Linked DNA regions of Homo sapiens: region 1 is linked to region 2. Evidence: fine-mapped expression QTL. A gene starts in region 2. The other region holds a variant in brackets. All regions are shown on one strand. Distances are from middle to middle. Region 1 holds the start of APOBEC3F (apolipoprotein B mRNA editing enzyme catalytic subunit 3F). Region 2 holds the start of APOBEC3H (apolipoprotein B mRNA editing enzyme catalytic subunit 3H).

What was found. PIP is the estimated chance that this variant, and not a neighbour inherited with it, causes the effect. A credible set is the group of variants that fine-mapping cannot tell apart.
Region 1: its variant is the best candidate, but not a certain one, in a credible set for the expression of APOBEC3H in blood mononuclear cells (TOPMed, PIP 0.52).

What each region holds. Positions count from the first base shown.
Region 1 is chr22:39,036,839-39,042,205 of GRCh38, reverse strand. It overlaps APOBEC3F (apolipoprotein B mRNA editing enzyme catalytic subunit 3F), which reads right to left and starts at 1,342. Exons shown (of 7, transcript NM_145298.6): 1 at 1,229-1,342. The coding sequence starts at 1,245. RefSeq lists enhancers at 1-420, 1,473-1,532, 4,538-5,367. The variant G/A (reference allele first, on the strand shown) is at 2,575.
Region 2 is chr22:39,094,594-39,099,960 of GRCh38, reverse strand. It overlaps APOBEC3H (apolipoprotein B mRNA editing enzyme catalytic subunit 3H), which reads right to left and starts at 2,717. Exons shown (of 5, transcript NM_181773.5): 1 at 2,618-2,717. RefSeq lists enhancers at 1,299-2,185, 2,516-2,855, 2,186-3,073, 2,396-3,595.

The DNA of each region.
Region 1 (5,367 bases), 58 kb after region 2:
GAACCGAATTCTGAGGCCCAGGCCACTCTTCTAAGTGCTGCGCGGATGTGAGCTCATGTGAGGCTGCCCTAGGCCCGCACGGGCCATTCCCATCTTACAGAGGAGGTGCCAGAGGCGCAGAGAGATGGGGTAACCTGCCCAGGCCACAGAGCTGGGGACGGATGGGGCTGGGGCCTCTTACCAGACCAGCCCTGTCCAGTCTCTGTGTCACCAGCCTTGCAGGAGGGAGCCATTGGGGACCAGACTCTCTTCTTACTAAATTTTAAAATAATAGCATTTCTCCTGATCATTGAGTTTTTTTCCCATATATTCCATGTTTTTTGTTTTTGTTTTTTTTTCTTTTGAGACGAAATTTGGCTCTTGTTGCCCAGGCTGGAGTGCGATGGGGCGATCTCGGCTCACTGCAACCTCCGCCTCCTGGGTTCAAGCGATTCTCCTGTCTCAGCCTGTGGAGTAGCTGGATTATAGGCGCCCGCCACCACACCCGGCTAATTTTGTATTTTTAGTAGAGACAGGGTTTATCCATGTTGATCAGGATGGTCTCGAACTCCCGACCTCAGGCAATCCACCCACCTCAGCCTACCAAAGTGCTGGGATGACAGGTGTGAGCCACCGCACCCGGCCACTATATTCCATGTTACTCGTGTCATTTATAAACAGTGAATGCTGATAGTGGAGGAGGAGCGTGTGTTTGGGGTCATCTGCATCCTCCTCTGCCCACAGTGGAGACATCCTTGGAAGATACGATTTATCTTGTGCTTCAGAGACCATTCCCTCCCCACACCCTCTCCTAAGACTTGCTATTTAAGCAAAGTAAATGTTACAGAAAATCCATCAAAGCACTGTGAACAAAATTCCACATTGCTCTAATCATCCTTTGGTTCAATTCTCCCAGTTCCAGAGTTCAGGAATGGCGGAAAGAACACAGAGGGAGCACCCTCCCAGGGCCGGGAGCACCAGCCCTGCCATGACTTTCGGTGGCGGGGGAGAGTCTCAGCAGGGCACCTGGGCTGGGGCAGGTGGGGAAGCGGCCTATTCAGAAGCAGCAGTGGGGCAACCACAGAGCAGGAAAAAGAGCCTGGCTGGGAGTGGCGGGGGCAGGGGAGCCAGAGGGGAGGGAGCCCAGGGCTGGGGCTGGGGCAGGGGGAGGCCAGGGCTGACGCCCAGCAGAGCCACCAGGCAGGAAGGGGCAGCAGAGGGGCCCAGCGGGTAGAGCGGGCAGCGGTACCTGAAGTGAGGCTTCATCCTTGGCCGGCTAGTCCCGACTAAGATCTTTGTCTGGAGCACCAGGGTTTCACTTTCTGCTCCAGGCTCCAGGTTTCAGGACAGCCCTCCCTAAAGTGACCTCCCAGGGCCTCGTAGTCATGGCCCCTCCCCCTTCCTGCTCAGGCGCTGGTGTAGGAGGCCCTGGGACGCTTTATCTTCCTCAGTCTCTCACCCTCTTTCTGGTTTTCTCTGGGGCCCTCCCCCTGGCAGAGGGACCTCTGATAAAGACAGGCCGCTCTGTGCGGCAGGACCCAAGGCAATTGCAAAGGGAAAGAGAAAGTCATTGCAGCCAGCGCCCGCGAGGTGGGTCCACACCAGGCTGAGCCAGCAGAGCACAAGCCCCTCCCCTGGTGGTCCCGCCCAGCTGGAGCCTCCTCTCCACCATCAAGACAGACAGGCTGATGCCTCCGCAGGGACTCCCGGATCCTGCCCTCGGGGATCATCCCAGAGACGGCCCCCACCCAGCGGCCATGGGGACAGGGAGGGAGAGTAAAGGGCCAGGTGTCTGCCTCTCCCCAGGCCTTCACCCTCGGAGGCCACCGTGGGAGGGAGGGACAGCAGGTGGGTGTGGGCCTCAGATGTCCCACCGGGATGCCATGCGCGCCCCCACACTGAGCTCTTTCCTTCCTGCTTCTCCTTCTTCCCCATCTCCTGCCCGGAGTTCCTCCCTGGTGGGCTGAGCTCTCGCCTCCTCTTGTCCCCATGTCATGGAAGAGCAGTGGCTGGTGTCCCAGGCCAGCCTGTCTGGAGCCTCCCTGCGCGTCTCACAGCTCCCTTCCCCTGGTAGCGTGTTCCCATGGCGCGGTGACCTAAAAATTACACAAGGGATGCATTTGGTTTTTTTGTTTGCTTTTGTTTTTTTGTGTTTTTTTGTTTGTTTGTTTGTTTTGAGACGGAGACTTGCTCTGTTACCCAGGCTGGAGTACAGTGGCGTAATCTCAGCTCACCGCAACCTTTGCCTCCCAGGTTCAAAAGATTCTCCTGCCTCAGCCTCCCATGTAACTGCGATTACAGGCACCCACCCCTACGCCTAGGCTAATTTTTGTATTCTTAGTAGAGACAGTGTTTCTCCATGTTGGTCAGGCTTACAGCCGCCCACCACTATGCCTGGCTAATTTTTGTATTTTTAGTAGAGACAGGGTTTCTCCATGTTGGTCAGCTGATCTCGAACTCCCGATCTGAGGAGATCCGCCCGCCTTGGCGTACCAAAGTGCCGGGATTACAGGTGTGAGCCACCGCGCCTGGCCACAATGTATAAATTTGGAAAGGAGATTTTATTTCTTGTTAAGGGTGACAGGCAGCAAGGTA[G/A]CCATCCCGCAGCCTGGGAAGAGCAGCCTCTGGGAAACACCAGAGACAGACATTTAGAAGCAGGAGGGGTTGGGGCAGGAGCTTTATGCTGAAGGGGTTGGCTAAACATACATATTCAACAGGCTATAGGAGGAGCTATGAATATTCATGTGGGTGGCTGCACTCCATGCTTATTGAACAAACATGCGTGTAACATATGATCCCAGGCAGGCACAGTGGCTCACGCCTGTAATCCCAGCATTTTGGGAGGCCGAGGCAGGTGGATCATCTGAGGTCAGTGTCAGGCCTCTGAGCCGGAGCTAAGCCATTGTGACCCCTGTGAACTGCACATATACATCCAGATGGCCTGCAGCAGCCAAGAAGTCTGGAGCAGCCAAAAAAACACAAAAGAAGTGAAACAGCCAGTTTCTCCCTTAACTGATTAACCAACCTTAAGACATTCCACCATTAGGACTTGTTCCTGCCCTACCCTAACTGATCAATCGACCTTATGACATTCTTCTTCTGGACAATGGGTCTCATGGTCTCCCACCATGCACCTGGTGACCCCCTCCCCTGCTGACAACAGATGACCACCTTCGACTGTAACTTTCCACCACCTACCCAAGTCCTATAAAGCTGCCCCTCTCTTATCTCCCTTCGCTGACTCTCTTTTCAGACTCAGCCCACTTGCACCCAAGTGAATAAATGGCGTTATTGCTTACACAAAGCCTGTTTAGGTGGTTTTCTATACAGACACGCATGACAGTGAGGAGTTCGAGACCAACCTGGCCAACATGGTGAGACCTGGTCTCTACTAAAACTACAAAAATTAGCCGGGTGTGGTGGCACGTGCCTGAAATCCCAGCTACTCGGGAGGCTGAGGCAGGAGAATCAGTTGAACCCAGAAGGCAGAGGTTGCAGTGGGCCGAGATCGCGCCACTGCCCTCCAGCCTGGGAGACAGAGTGAGACTCCATCTCAAAACAAAAAACAAACAAACAAAAATCTAAAAAAAAAAAAAGCAACCGTATAATCCGTCCTCACATTGCGGTGGAGACAACATTTAAATGTACCACAATTAAGCCTGTATGTCAAAAGGTCCTTTCAGGACATGAAGGCACCAAAATTTGCCAGGTCTGTAAACCATTCAGAACTAGTCCGTGGTCCGTGGTCTTCCGATCTGGAGAAAGTTACTGAAATCAGTCTCTTGTCCAGGGAAACCTGGAATTAGGGCTGTGGAGCAGGGGCTCTGTTGCTCCGCGTCCGGGCGCTGGGTGAGCTGTGATTGTTTTCATCTTTATCTGGAGGCAGTGCTTGTTTAGCTGCTAGAGCAAAAAAAAAAAAAAAAAAAAAACCTTGGGGCAGGCAGAACAGAGTTGACTGTTTAAGTGTGGGGTGTGTGATCTCACCCTTGCCTGGCACGGCCTGAGGTCCTGGTTGTGATTTGGTATCTGATTGCCATGAAGAGTCTGTTCTGGTTCTGCCCATCTTATGATTCTGTTTTAACATTACTGCTGGTCAGTTGTGTCTAAACTGCAAAAGGGCGGGGTGATAATGAGGCGTGCCTGACCTCCCCTCCCATCATGGCTGGGAACTCAGTTTTAAGGTTTTTCTGAGATACCCCTGGCCACTGGGGGCCAAAGTTGGGGGGGATCGGTGGGGGCTAAAGACTTTATTTTTAGTTCATAGGCCTTTGGACTAAGCTCTGATTTGTTTTTATTTAATCTTGCCCAAAATCCTATCTAAGGGGTCTGGGGAGTCATGCCTTACAACCCGTACATCCTCATCAGAGGGGTTCTATTTTTTTTTTTTTTTTTCCTATTGTATTTTAATGGAGGCCGAGTTTCACTCTTCTTGCCCAGGCTGGAGTGCAATGGTGTGGTCTCGGCTCACTGCAACCTTCGCCTCCCGGGTTCAAGCGATTCTCCTGTCTCAGCCTCCCAAGTAGCTGGGATTATAGGTGCCCGCCACCACACCTGGATAATTTTTGTATTTTTAGTAGAGACAGGGTTTCACCATGTTGGCCAGGCTGGTCTTGAACTGCTGACCTCAGGTGATCCACCCACCTAGGCCTCTCAAAGTGCTGGGATTACAGACATGAGCCACTGCGCCCGGCCCACATGGGTTTTATTTAACCCTATATATTGTGAGTTACTTTCCAATCTGACTCAGGCACAACATTATGTGACAAAGTAAAAAGACAAAATATTTTACCCCAAAACATGTTTCTTTGCCATATCTTGAAATGGCCCTGCAAAGTTGTCCTTTGTGGGGCAAAATTTGTATCTGTAAAGAATCTCTATTAACATAGCTGGATCTTTTTCTTCTAGGCCCTCCCGGTCCTAAACAGATGAACTAATTGCACCTTTTAAAGGCCTGAATGGGAAACATTTGTCATCTATTGTCTCTAAGGGCAGCCACTATGAGACTTCAAAAGAACCTTGATCTCCACAATCTTTTATCTTAACCTGAACGTTTCCTTTCTATGGATGCCAGGTCTCTAGACAAACTCAACCAATTGTCAACCAGAAAATGTTTAAATTTACCTGTAGCCTGGAAGCCCCCCAGCACTCCTGCCCTCACTTTGAGCCGTCCGACCTTTCTGGAGCAATCCGAAGTATTTCTTTTCTTTTTTTTGAGACGGAGTCTTGCTGTGTCGCCCAGACTGGAGTGCAGTGGCGTGATCTTGGCTCACTGCAACCTCTGCCTCCTGGGTTCAAGTGATTCTCCTGCCTCAGTCTCCCGAGTAGCTGTGATTACAGGTGCCCAGCACCACACCTGGCTAATTTTTTGTATTTTTAGTAGAGACGGGG
Region 2 (5,367 bases):
TCTCAGGTGATCCACCCACCTTGGTCTCCCAAAGTGTTGGGATTACAGGTGTGAGCCCCTGCGCCCAGCCAAACCCAACCCTTTCTGTTCATTTGGGCCCTTCCCCTTGGTGAGGGAGGGTCTCCCCTTTAGTTGTTGGCCAGGAGGACTGCAGTGGAGCAGGGGAAGGAAGGGCTGGCAGGAGGACAGGAGGAGGGGAGTGCTCCCTCCCACCTTGTCTGCTATCTCCCATCCTCCCACCTGGGAGGGCACCGGCTGCTGCCCACAGCTGAGGCTCTTTGCATGGGGATGCCCCGACCTCGTCACTATTCTTCCTGGGTTGGGTGGGGATCCCCTGCCTGAGAACTGTGGGTGTGCCTTTCTGGCTCCCCTGGGCTCAGAGCTGCTCTGAGCTGCTCACACGCCTCTGGCCTGAGTCCCAGATCCCTCTTTCCAGCTGCAGTTGGACACCCCCTCCTTGAGGTCCACAGGCCTCTCGACCCCTACATGTCCAATACCAGAACCCTTCCCCTTGGGGAGTGATGGGGTGGAAACTGGGGCTTCCTCCAGCACTGTGCTCTTTGCTCAGGTGTGTGTTTGACAAGTTTGTCTGCACAGAACACAGTTGAGTGAACAGAAAAGCTGTTGTCACCAAGGGAGTGTTGTGACACATTTTTGGCTGAAGAAATTACATAGATTTTGCTCTCCTGAATTGTGATTACATTCTACAGAGGATTCAATTTTGGATTTTGCTTTTTTTTTGTTTTTGAGAGAGAGTCTTGCTCTGTTGCCCAGGCTGGAGTGCAGTGGTCCAATCTCAGCTCACTGCAAGCTCCACCTACCAGGTTCAAGTGATTCTCCCGGGTTCAAGCAATTCTCCTGCCTCAGCCTCCCAAGTAGCTGGAATTACAAGCGCCCTCCTTCATGCCCGGCTAATTTTTGTATTTTTGTAGAGATGGAGTTTTACCATGTTGGCCAGGCTGGTCTTGAACTCCTTTGACCTCAGGTGATCCACCCACCTCGGCCTCCCAAAGTGCTGGGATTATAGGCGTGAGCCACCGCGCCCCGCCAGGATTGTGACCCATGCGCTCACCTCCTGTCTCCCCGAGGGCCTGAGCTCCTTTTCTTTGGCCTGTCTGATTGATGGTTGCCCATCTACTTTCTATTCTGCTTTCTGGAAAACCCCTGAGCATTTCAAGCCTCCAAGTCCTGAGAATTTCTGCAGCTTTCCCAAGCAGGAAGACCAGGGAGAGGAGAAGAGAAGGAGATGCTGGCAGGGGCAGCAGGGCCGGGGTGACCTCTCCCAGCTCAGGGCCCTAGCTCTGGTCTTTCCAGGGATGGATCTCCCATCCTCCCAGTATTTCTGCCACCCATCCTCTAACCCATTAAAAATAAGAAAAGTGAATAAAATTCTCCCCTTCAAAATAAGAGCTCTTAATATTTCAGTTCAATTAATTCCTGGCATTTTACCTATTCATGTTATTTTATTTTATTTTTTTAGTTTTAGTAGATAAGGGGGTCTCCCTGTGTTGCCCAGGCTGGTTTGGAACTCCTGGCCTTTAGTGATGATCCTCCCCTCTCAGCTTCCCAAAGTGTTGGGATTACAGGCATGAGCCATTTTGCCTGGCCAGGCAGGAAAATGGCGTGAACCCAGGAGGTGGAGCTTGTAGTGAGCCGAGATTGCGCTCCAGCCTGGGCAACAGACTGAGACACCCCTTCTCAAAAAAACAAAACGAAACAAAAAATCAGGGTAGCACTTCCATCCCCAGGCCCAGGCCACTCTTCTAAGTGCTGAGAGGATCTGAGCTCACGTGAGGCTGCCCTAGGCCTGCAGGGGCCATTCTCATCTTACAGAGGAGGGGCCAGAGGTGCAGAGAGGTGGGGTAACCTGCCCAGGCCATGGAGCTGGGCCACTTTCCTGGCCAGCCCTGCCAGCCTCTGCATCACGGGCCCTGCAGGAGGGAGCCTTTGGGAACCAGGCTCTCTTCTTCCTAAATTTTAAAATAAAAGCATTTCTCCTGATCATTGAGTTTTTCCGTATATTCCGTGTTACTGGTGTCATTATAAACGGTGAATGTGAATACTGATCATGGAGGAGGAGTGTGTGTTCAGGGTCATCTGCATCCTCCTCTGCCCACAGTGGAGACATCCTTGGAAGAGATGATTTGCCTTGTGCTTCAGAGATCATTGCCTCCCCACACCCTCTCCTAAGACTTTGTATTGAAACAAAGTAATCTTACACAAAGTTCATCAAAGCACTGTGAACAAAATTCCAGATTGCTCCCATCATCCTTTAGTTCAGTTCTCCCAGTTCCAGAGCCCAGGAATGGCAGGAAGCACACAGAGAGAGCACCCTCCCAAGGTGGGGAGCACTAGCCCAGCCATGACTCTTAGGGGAGAGTCTCAGCAGGGGTCTTGGGCTGGTGCAGGCCGGGGAGGCGGCCCGTTCAGAAGCAGCAGTGGGGTGACCACACAGCAGGGCAAAGAGCCTGGGTGGGAGTGGGGATGGCAGGGGAGCCAGAGGAGAAGGAGCCCAGGGCTGGGGCTGGGGCAGCGGGAGGCCAGGGCTGAGGCACAGAAGGGCTGCCAGGCAGGAAGTGGCAGCAGAGGGCCCAGTGGACAGAGTGGGCGGCAGTACCTGATCTGTGCTTCTGGCCACAGCTTCCTTAGCAGACTTGCCCCTGCTTGTCTGAGGCACTAAGTTTCACTTTTGGCAGCTCTCCCAAAAGTCACAAAAGGTCAGCTCTCCCAAAAGTCACAAAAAGTCACTGCTTGATGAGGGTGGCTCCACCCTCTTCCTTTTGTGGGACTGGAGTGGGAGGGCCCTGGGGTGCTTCAGATCCCTCAGGCTCCTTTCTTTCTCTATTTCCTCGGGCTTGGCAGGGGAAGTCTGATGGAGGTGGCTCACCTCCCATCCTCCCACCCCCAATTCCCTCTCCAGGTACAGCCAGACTCAACTCCCTCCCCAGGTATAGTTTACAAAAGAACAAAGGCCAGATGCGGTGGCTCACACCTGTAATCCGAACACTTTGGGAGGCTGAGGTGGGCAAATTACAAGGTAAGGAGATGAAGACCATCCTGGCCAACATGGTGAAACCCCGTCTCTGCTAAAATACAAAAAATTAGCCAGGTTTGGTGGCCTGCGCCTGTAGTTCCAGCTGCTTGGGAGGCTGAGGCAGGGAAATTGCTTGAACCTTGGAGGCAGAGGTTGCAGTGAGCCGACGTCGCACCACTGCACTCCACCCTGGCAACAGAACGAGACCCTGTCTCAAAAAATAAATAAATAAATAAAAATAAAAAAGAAAGAAAAAAGAAAGGAATTGATGGCTGGTCACGGTGCCTGTTATCCCAGCACTTTGGGAGGCTGAGGCAGGTGGATTGCCTGAAGTCAGGAGTTCAAAATCAACCTGGCCAACCGCACTCCAGCCTGGGCAATAAGAACAAAACTCCGTCTCAAAAACTAAACTAAACTAAAATAAATGAAAGGAATAGAAGCCACAGAAAGGAGCAGGGATCCAGACCAGGGCTGACACCATAGACCAGATGCCACTCCCCTGGTGGACAGGGCAGGCTGCAGCCCCCTCCCCACCACCCCACTGACCTTTGGCATTCAGCCTCCTGGCAGGACCCTGAGCCTGATGTGAAATGAGCACTGGGGTCAGGCTCAGGACTGCATCTCCAGCGGATCCAGTGCCCATTATCTAGCCCAGTCCCCAGATAGCACTGGGAGGGGAGGGCAGTGATCCTGACAGTCAGAGGAGGTCCCAAGCACAGAGAGGCTAAGATACTGTCCCCACGTCACACAGCAAATCAACAGCAGAGCTGGAGTGCTGGCCAGGACTTCCTGTGTCCCTTCTCCCCCACAGCTAGCTACTTTGAGGTTCTTCATTGCTCCATGGAAAGGAGCAGGAGAGGAGACACGAGGGAGGGGACTTACTGCTCCTAAAGGGCCTCCCAGGTCAGAGATGAAGGACCTGGACTTCACATTTGCATTCTGGAACCCATGTCCTCGTCTTCATGCATATCAACCAACACCCTTCAGATCATAAACACCAAAGAGCCAGGCCAGGTGCTGTGGCTCACGCCTGTAATCCCAGCACTTCGGGAGGCTCAGGCAGGCTGATGACCTGAGGTCAGGAGTTCGAGACCAGCCTGGGCAACACGGTGAAACCTCGTCTCTACTAAAAATACAAAAATTAGCCAGGCGTGGTGGCGGGCATCTGTAATCCCAGCTACTCAGGAGTCTGAAGCAGGGGAATCATTCGAACCTGGGAGGCAGAGGTTGCAGCGAGCCGAGATTGTGCCACTGCACTCTAGCCTGGTCGACAAGAACGGGACTCTGTCTAAAAGAAAAGAAAAAGAAAAACCAAAGAACCCCTAGGAAAGTTGAATCCCAAGGGCGAGGACTAGGGGCAGTCACTGCGGAGTCTAGGTTCCACACCAAGGAGTCCCATTGAACCTTGCCCAGCTTGTCCCTCCATATCCTCCCGCCCTGCACACCCTGACAGCCCTCTAGACCCTGCATGGCCCCTGGGGTCACAGGAGCTTGGGTGAGAATTTAGAAGGTTCCTGGGAATGGCATCCCCTCCACCCTATCTGTCCTAAATGTTGGGGCTACAGTCCATGGAAGATTCCAGAATGAGCGGGGTCCTGCCAGGAGAGACATCAGATCTGCACACTGTAGTGCTGGTTAATCACAGAGCTGAGTCTCCCAGGCTGAGAAGCAGGGAGGATGGAAAGGAAGGCGGAACCCTTTCCTGGTCCTTCCCACAGGCAGCATTCCCACTACTCCTCCAGTGAATTCCTGCAGCAGAGACCCTGTGGTGTCTAGGACGGGCCTGTGCTTAGGTGTTATCTCCAGGAGGACGGGAGGTTAGGCTGGCCACTCTGGCCTGTGTTCGTTGCTGCAAAGGGGGACCCGATCCAGACCCCAAGAATGGGTTCTTGGATCTCTCACAGGAAAGAACTCAAGCTGAGCCACAGGGTGCGGTGAAGTTGTGATCATTTATTAGAAGCTCCGGCACTACAGACTAGGGAGGCCTCAGAAGGCAGAAGGAAGAACGTCCCGTCTTTGTTTTAAGCTTCTTTTTTTTTTTTTTGAGATGGAGTCTCGCTCTGTCACCCAGGATGTGGTGCAATGGTGCGATCTCGGCTCACTTCAACCTCTGCCTCCCAGGTTTAAGAAATTCTCCTGCCTCAGACTCCCGAGTAGCTGGGTTCACAGGTGTGCAGTGCCACACCCAGCTAATTTCTGTATTTTTAGTAGAGAGGGGATTTCATCATATTGGCCAGGCTGGTTTCAAACTTCTGACTCCTGATCTGCCCACCTCAGCCTCCCAAAGTGTTGGGATTACAGGTGTGAGCCACCACGCCCGGCCTAAATCTCCC